2 linked regions of the Homo sapiens genome follow. The protein of the gene in region 1 purifies or fractionates together with the protein of each later gene. This does not show direct contact. Each region holds a gene or a part of one and is shown in the gene's direction. Other genes may lie near its edges.

Evidence for each region.
Region 2: the proteins of PCYT1A (region 1) and CACNB1 purify together in Homo sapiens (co-immunoprecipitation; one large-scale study listed by IntAct). This does not show direct contact.

Annotation. Positions count from the first base shown.
Region 1 is NC_000003.12:196,246,023-196,249,837, reverse strand, and holds part of PCYT1A (choline-phosphate cytidylyltransferase A), read left to right. Parts: intron 1-1,514; coding exon 1,515-1,631; intron 1,632-2,319; coding exon 2,320-2,471; intron 2,472-3,815. UniProt on the Homo sapiens protein: Catalyzes the key rate-limiting step in the CDP-choline pathway for phosphatidylcholine biosynthesis.
Region 2 is NC_000017.11:39,176,901-39,180,715, reverse strand, and holds part of CACNB1 (voltage-dependent L-type calcium channel subunit beta-1), read left to right. Parts: intron 1-2,636; coding exon 2,637-2,732; intron 2,733-3,180; coding exon 3,181-3,366; coding exon of another isoform or gene 3,367-3,471; exon of another isoform or gene 3,472-3,709; intron 3,710-3,815. UniProt on the Homo sapiens protein: Regulatory subunit of L-type calcium channels. Regulates the activity of L-type calcium channels that contain CACNA1A as pore-forming subunit.

The DNA of each region.
Region 1 (3,815 bases):
TCCTCAGCCTCAGCATAGTGTATCTGGTCCTCAGCCTCGGCATGGTGTATCTGATCCTCAACCTCAGCATAGTGTATCTGATGACACTTTGACCTATCTTTCCCAAATGATGTAAATGCTCCTGTCAGTTTCTGCTGCAGTAAAATAGCTCTTCCTTTATTCACAGAAAGGGAATAAGTTACATGGACTCCTTAGATTTATTATTTAAAGCATGATGGACCATTATGCTGATTCTGTTTTTAATGTTTATTTCACTTTGGAATTAGTCTTGTTCCCCGGGAAATCATTTCCTGGCTTCTAAGTTGACAGTTCTCTGTTATTTGTTGTGCCTGAAAAGTTTGGTACAACCAGGCTAACAGAGGCAGTTAGTGCAGATGATGATGTCAAAAATCTCTTTATAGGCTGAGCATGGTGGCTCACACCTGGAATCCCAGCATTTTGGGAGGCCAAGGTGGGATTGCTTGAGTCCAGGAGTTCGAGACCAGCCTGGGCAACATGGTCTCTACAAAAAAAAAAAAAAAAAATTAGCTGGGCATGGTGGTGTCCATCTGTGGTCCCATCTACTTGGGAGGCTGAGATGGGAGGATCACTTGAGCCCAGGAGGTCAAGGCTGCCGTGAGCTGTGACCACATCAGTGCACTCCAGGCTGGATGACAGAGTGAGACCCTGTCTCAAAAAAAAAATGAAAAGGTCTTTATAGTCATTTTTCATAACCCAACCTACCCCTAAAATCAGGGTGAATACCCAGAGAACACCTAAAGAAAGGAGTATGCAGTTGGGCCGGGCGCGGTTGCTCACACCTGTAATCCCAGCACTTTGGGAGGCTTAGGCGGGTGGATCACGAGGTCAGGAGATCGAGACCATCCTGTCTAACACTGTGAAACCCCATCTCTACTAAAAAATAATACAAAAAATTAGCTGGGCTTGGTGGTGGGCGCCTGTAGTTCCAGCTACTCAGGAGGCGGAGGCAGGAGAGTCGCTTGAATCCGGGAGTTGCAGGTTGTAGTGAGCCGAGATCGTGCCACTGCACTCCAGTCTGGGTGATGGAGCGAGATTCCGTCTCAAGAAAAAAATAAAAAAAAAGAAAGGAGTATACAGTCATGGAACTGTCACACAGAGCCAGTTCCATTTGCCAAGTACAAGATATCGAATCAATGTATTTTTGTGGCTTGGCATGGTGGTTCACACCTGTAATCCCAGCACTTTGGGAGGCTGAGGCTGGCGGGTCATTTGAGACCAGGAATTCGAGACCAGCCTGGCCAACAAGGAAAAACCCCATCTCTACTAAAAACACAAAAATTAGGCAGGCGTGATGACATGCACCTGTAATCCCAGCTGCTTGGGAGGCTGAGGCAGGAGAATCACTTGAACCCAGGAGGCGGAAGTTGCAGTGAGCCGAGATCACGCCACTGCACTCCAGCCTGGGTGACAGAGTGAGACTCGGCCTCAAAAATAAAAATAAAAATGACAAAAAAAAAGGTATTTTTGTGATCAATTCTTTCATTTGGATTTAGGTGAGCGACCTGTGAGAGTTTATGCCGATGGAATATTTGACTTATTTCACTCTGGTCACGCCCGAGCTCTGATGCAAGCGAAGAACCTTTTCCCTAATACGTACCTCATTGTGGGAGGTAAGAAAACATTTGGTGACTTCAGGTGCTGTGCAGAAAAAGATGATAGTACAGTCTGTCTTTCTCAGCTGAGTACACTGGCTCTTGTTTCCATTTTTAAATGAAGGATGTAGTACAGCCTCTCTAACACACATGAAGTATATGGGTACCAGCAAACTAAACCTGGAGAGAGGAGCTTCAAGCTCCTCGACTGTGCCATCTGGCATTTATTCACTGCTTGTAGCTGAGTTTCTGTGGTCACAGGAGCAGCCGTGACTTCCGTTGTCCACTTTAAAACATTTGCTTTAGATTTCAGTTTATCATTTTGAATTAACTGGAGTACAAAAGTCTGCCAAGGAAATGTTAGGTGGTCCAGTCCAGTGTGAATAAAACAGGAAAACATGTTTAAGGACTTAATTGATGCAGACACGCACAGCAGGTTTATTTCAGAGTCAAAGATCTTGGTCACCTGTTGTACTGTCCCTTCTCCAAAGTATGAACATACTGTTTAGTGAGTGTTGCTCCTGAAGGTATACGCTGCATTAGGAAAAGCGTTATCACCCAGGTTCAACCACCTTTAGAAGACTTTTTTCCAGTTGGGGAAGATGGTTGCAGTCCTAAGCAGTGGGAGAAGATGGGAGAGGTCGGTGGCTGAGGAGGTGCTAAGCAAAGAGGACTCCAACACACAATTTATGATGTGGTGAACCAGTTTGCAGTGATGAGCTCACACACAACTTCAAAGGCTTCACGGTGATGAACGAGAATGAGCGCTATGACGCAGTCCAGCACTGCCGCTACGTGGATGAGGTGGTGAGGAATGCGCCCTGGACGCTGACACCCGAGTTCCTGGCCGAACACCGGGTAAGAAACTGGACACATATTCCCATTCCTTGTTTCAGAATCCCCTCAACTCTCAAAGCTGCTGGCACGTAGGCTGGTTTTCCACTAGCCGTGTTTTACTTCTACCTCTTATGTAAGTTTCGTAGGAGATGACAGTGATATTACTAGTGATAACAGTCACCCCTGACGTTTATATGGGGCTGGATGGTTTGCAAGCACTTTTACATCCATTCTATTCCATTTTCTGCCCACAGCAATCCTGTGGTGTGTTTGTCATTTCCGCTTTACATATGAGTAACAAGGGCTAGAGAAACCAAATAACCTGCTCCAAGTTACACCATTGGCAGGGCTGGGAACTGAACTCGCCACAAGTTACACCACTGGCAGGGCTGGGAACTGAACTCGCCACAAGTTACACCACTGGCAGGGCTGGGAACTGAACTCGCCACAAGTTACACCACTGGCAGGGCTGGGAACTGAACTCGCCACAAATTACACCACTGGCAGGGCTGGGAACTGAACTCGCCACAAGTTACACCACTGGCAGGGCTGGGAACTGAACTCACCAGTTACGAGACCTTCCCCCCACACCATAGGCACATCTACCCTTAGAACATGCCAGTCTCCTGAGAATATCCATAGCCCCAGGTGAACTCTGAAGACGGTCACATTACCAGGAAATAAGACGGATTAACATAGACTTTTCTTGGCTTAAGTTTCATTTCAGGGCTTTGATCTTATGCTAGAAATTGGGTGGAATCAGAAATCAAGGATATTTCTCACTGTTTCTCAGTAAGTTATTATCAACCCCTTACCTCCTTTTAATTCTCCCACATTAAAGTAACAGATTTCAGCCAGGTGCAGTGGCTCACGCCTGTAATCCAAGCACTTTGGGAGGCCAAGGTGGGAGGATCGCTTGAGCCCAGGAGCTCAAGACCAGCCTGGGCAACATACCGAGACCCTGTCTCTACTTTAAAAAAAAAAAAGCCACAGGTTTCCTGCAAAAGGTGGGTACAAAAGATGAGAAGGATTGATTAGGCCAGGTTAGAGGCCCCCAAGCCTGAGGAAATAGCAAGCATGTTGTCAGTTCTCTACAGGGGCGCGTGGAATGTTGTAGGTAAATTGTTCAGTGAGGCAGAAAGAATGAAGGCAGCCAAAGTGCTTCTAAAGCAATACGTGGGTAGGCCTGAAGAGGGGATATTTATTAAAACTATTGAGGATTAGGACAGACCTTTTATAATTCTCTGGCTTTTCTACATCAACACCTAGCAGCCAGTGGCACCAAAGGTGGTAAGCAAGTTTATTCTCAGCACCACAGCCCACAGGCCCAGACAGAAGTATGAAGTTAGAGGAATTTCTAACTCC
Region 2 (3,815 bases), on another chromosome or scaffold:
AGATTCACAAATTTTGAAACATTTACTTTTATCTTTCTTTCTCTCTTTTTTTTTTTGAGGGGGGACGAAGTCTCGCTCTGTCACCCAGGCTGGAGTGCAGTGGTACAATATTGGCTCACTGCAATCTCTGCCTCCCAGGTTCAAGTGATTCTCCTGCCTCAGCCTCCCAAGTAGCTGGTATTACAGGCGCCCACCACCACACCTGGCTAATTTTTATATTTTTAGTAGAGACAGAGTTTCACCATGTTGGCCAGGCTGGTCTCGAACTCCCGACCTCAAAAGATCCACCTGTCTCAGCCTCCCAAAGTGCTGGGATTATAGGCGTGAGCCACCATGCCTGGCCTATATTGTGTTTCTTAAGAACAACATCATTATCTTACACAACCATGATGCAATTGTAAAATTCAAGAATTATTTCTAAAATATAGTCCATATTTGGTTTTTTTTTTTTTTGAGCTAGGGTCTCACTCTGGCTGCCCAGGCTGGAGTGCAGTGATGCGATCTTGGCTGACTGCAGCCTCTGCCTCCCTAGTTCAAGCAGTTCTGCCTCAGCCTCCTGAGTATCTGGGATTACAGGCGCCTGCCACCATACCCAGTTAATTTTTGTATTTTCAGTAGAGACGGGGTTTTGCCATGTTGGCCTGGCTGGTCTCGAACTCCTGACCTCAGGTGATCCACCACCACCCCTGCCTCCCAAAGTGTAGGGATTACAGGCGTGAGCCACTGTGCCGGTATAGAATGCCCTTCATAGCAACATTTCCCCCAATCCAGGAACCAACCCAGGATCACTTGTTGCCTGTTGTTTTTTAGACAGAGTCTTGTTCTGTCGCCCAGGCTGGAGTGCAGTGGCATGATGTCAGCTCACCTCAACCTCTGCCTCCCAAGTTCAAGTGATTTTCATGCCTCAGCCTCGTGAGTAGCTGGGACTACAGGCATGTGCTACCACGCCAAGCTAATTTTTGTATTATTATTATTTTTTAATAAAGACAGGGTTTCACCATGATGGCCAGGCTGGTCTTGAACTCCTGGCCTCAGGTGATCCACCCGCCTCAGCCTCCCAAAGTACTGGGATTACAGGTGTGAGCCACTGCGCCCGGCCTAGTTTTCTTTCTTTCTTTCTTTCTTTTTTTTTTTTTTGAGACAGAGTCTCACTCTGTCGCTCAGGTTGGAGTGCAGTGGCGATCTCAGCTCACTGCAAGCTCCGCCTCCCAGGTTCACGCCGTTCTCCTGCCTCAGCCTCCCAAGTAGCTGGGTCTACAGGCACCTGCCACCATGCCCGGCTAATTTTTTTAGTAGAGACGGGGTTTCACTATGTTGGCCAGGATGGTCTTGATCTCCTGACCTCGTGATCCACCCACCTTGGCCTCCCAAAGTGCTGGGATTATAGGCATGAGCCACTGCACCCGGCCCTCTTTTTTTTTTTTTTTTTTTTTTTGAGACGGAGTCTTGCTCTGTTGTCCAAGCTGGAGTGCAGTGGCACCATCTCGGCTTACTGCAAGCTCTGCCTCCATTCTTCTGCCCCAGCCTCCTGAGTAGCTGAGACTACAGGCGCCTACCACCACATCCGGCTAATGTTTTGTATTTTTAGTAGAGATGGGGTTTCACCATGTTAGCCAGGATGGTCTCGATCTCCTGACTTCAAGATCTGCCCGCCTTGGCCTCCCAAAGTGCTGGGATTACAGGTGTGACCCACCGCACCCAGCCAGTATAGTTTTCTTTAATCTGGAAGGCTTCCTCAGCCTTTCTTGAATTTTCCAGAGACTGACATTTAGGCAGAGTACAGGACAGCTATTCTGTAGACTGTCTGTCCCTCAGTGTGCGTTTGTGTGATTGTTCCTCATGATTAGTTTCCGGTTTTGCATTATTATAATTATGGTTCTTGTTGTTGAGATGAGAATGATAATAGCAGCTATCTAACAGGATTGTTGTCAGGACTCAATTGATCATGTGAAAAGCACAGAACAATGCTGGTATGTAGCAAGTGCCCCATAAAGGAAGACTGTTGTTGTTGCCGTTGTTAATATAGAGGGTGTGGCTGGGCTCAGTGACTCACGCCTATAATCCCAGCACTTTGAGAGGCTGAGGCAAGTGGATCACTTGAGGCCAGGAGTTTCAGACCAGCCTGGGCAACATAATAAGACCCTGTTTCTACAAAAAAATTAAAAAAAATTAGTGGGGTATGATGGCACGTGCCTGTAGCCCTAGTTACTGAGGAGGCTAGGCTGGGGGCTCGCTTGAGCCCAGGGTAGAGGTGAACTATGTTCACACCACTGCACTTCAGCCTGGGTGACAGAGCGAGAACCAGTCTCTAAAATTTAAAAAAAAAAAAACAAAAAAAAAGGAGAGTGGGCGGGCCTACAAACAATGTTAGAGAAGTTGAGAAGGAGAATCACTGCCCTTCATATAGCCCCTAAGGAAGGCTGGCATAACACCAGGAGAGAGCCTGAGCTTTGCATAGGGTAGACACAGGGCTGCTGAGGTCCTTTCTGCAGAGGTGCCCAGGGCTGAGAGTTATGGAGCATTCAAGGGTCTTGACACTGGCTCTCCATGCTGATCCAACCAGGACCCGCCTCTCTGACTGGGTGCATTGCCTGAGTCCCTCTAGCTCCTCTTCCTTTTCTCTCTCCCCAAACCAGGTACTTCAAAGGCTCATCAAGTCCCGAGGAAAGTCTCAGTCCAAACACCTCAATGTCCAAATAGCGGCCTCGGAAAAGCTGGCACAGTGCCCCCCTGTGAGTGCCTAGATCCCAGGGAAGGGAATGGAGGGAGAACATTTGGGTTGTCCTGGTTTCCTCTGGCCTACATGAGAGACAGGGTGACCAGGAACACCTGGGTCAGGCCTGTGGGTGCAGACTGGTCTTCTGGGAAGAGCGCAGGTCCCGTCAGTCAAAGACTGGGTTCAAGCCCCAGAAGCACCCTTCTGCGTGGAGAGTCAAGCCCTGTCTCCCAGCCTTGGTTGCCTTATCTCTAGAATGAGGGAGTTGGACTGAGTGCCAAAACTTCTTGCAGTTCTGCCAATCTGTAGATCTGAGAGCTCTCCTTCCCTTCTACATCCAGAGGCCTCTTTTTAACCTTGTCCTTCAATCCCTTGACTCTACCCACTGCACCCAGGCCACACCCTCAACCCCCTTGGCCATGCCCCACTCATCCCAGCCCTGCCCCCTAACCCCGCCTTCACAGGAAATGTTTGACATCATCCTGGATGAGAACCAATTGGAGGATGCCTGCGAGCATCTGGCGGAGTACTTGGAAGCCTATTGGAAGGCCACACACCCGCCCAGCAGCACGCCACCCAATCCGCTGCTGAACCGCACCATGGCTACCGCAGCCCTGGCTGCCAGCCCTGCCCCTGTCTCCAACCTCCAGGTACAGGTGCTCACCTCGCTCAGGAGAAACCTCGGCTTCTGGGGCGGGCTGGAGTCCTCACAGCGGGGCAGTGTGGTGCCCCAGGAGCAGGAACATGCCATGTAGTGGGCGCCCTGCCCGTCTTCCCTCCTGCTCTGGGGTCGGAACTGGAGTGCAGGGAACATGGAGGAGGAAGGGAAGAGCTTTATTTTGTAAAAAAATAAGATGAGCGGCAGCTTCTGGTGTCTGTGGTTTTTGATGGGTCTGGGGCTTCTGGTGCTGTCTTCCTGGGCCTGGTGCCATAGGAGCGCATCTGCTGCCCGCTGGATATGAGGCCTGATGGGAGCGCTTTTAAGACAAGGGACTAGGAAGGACATGCGAGGAAGACTGATAAACTGATTCGCTGGACTCCACACCCTTTTTAGACCCAACAGAGCAGGGGCCTTCAGAGCCAGGGAAACCTACGTTAA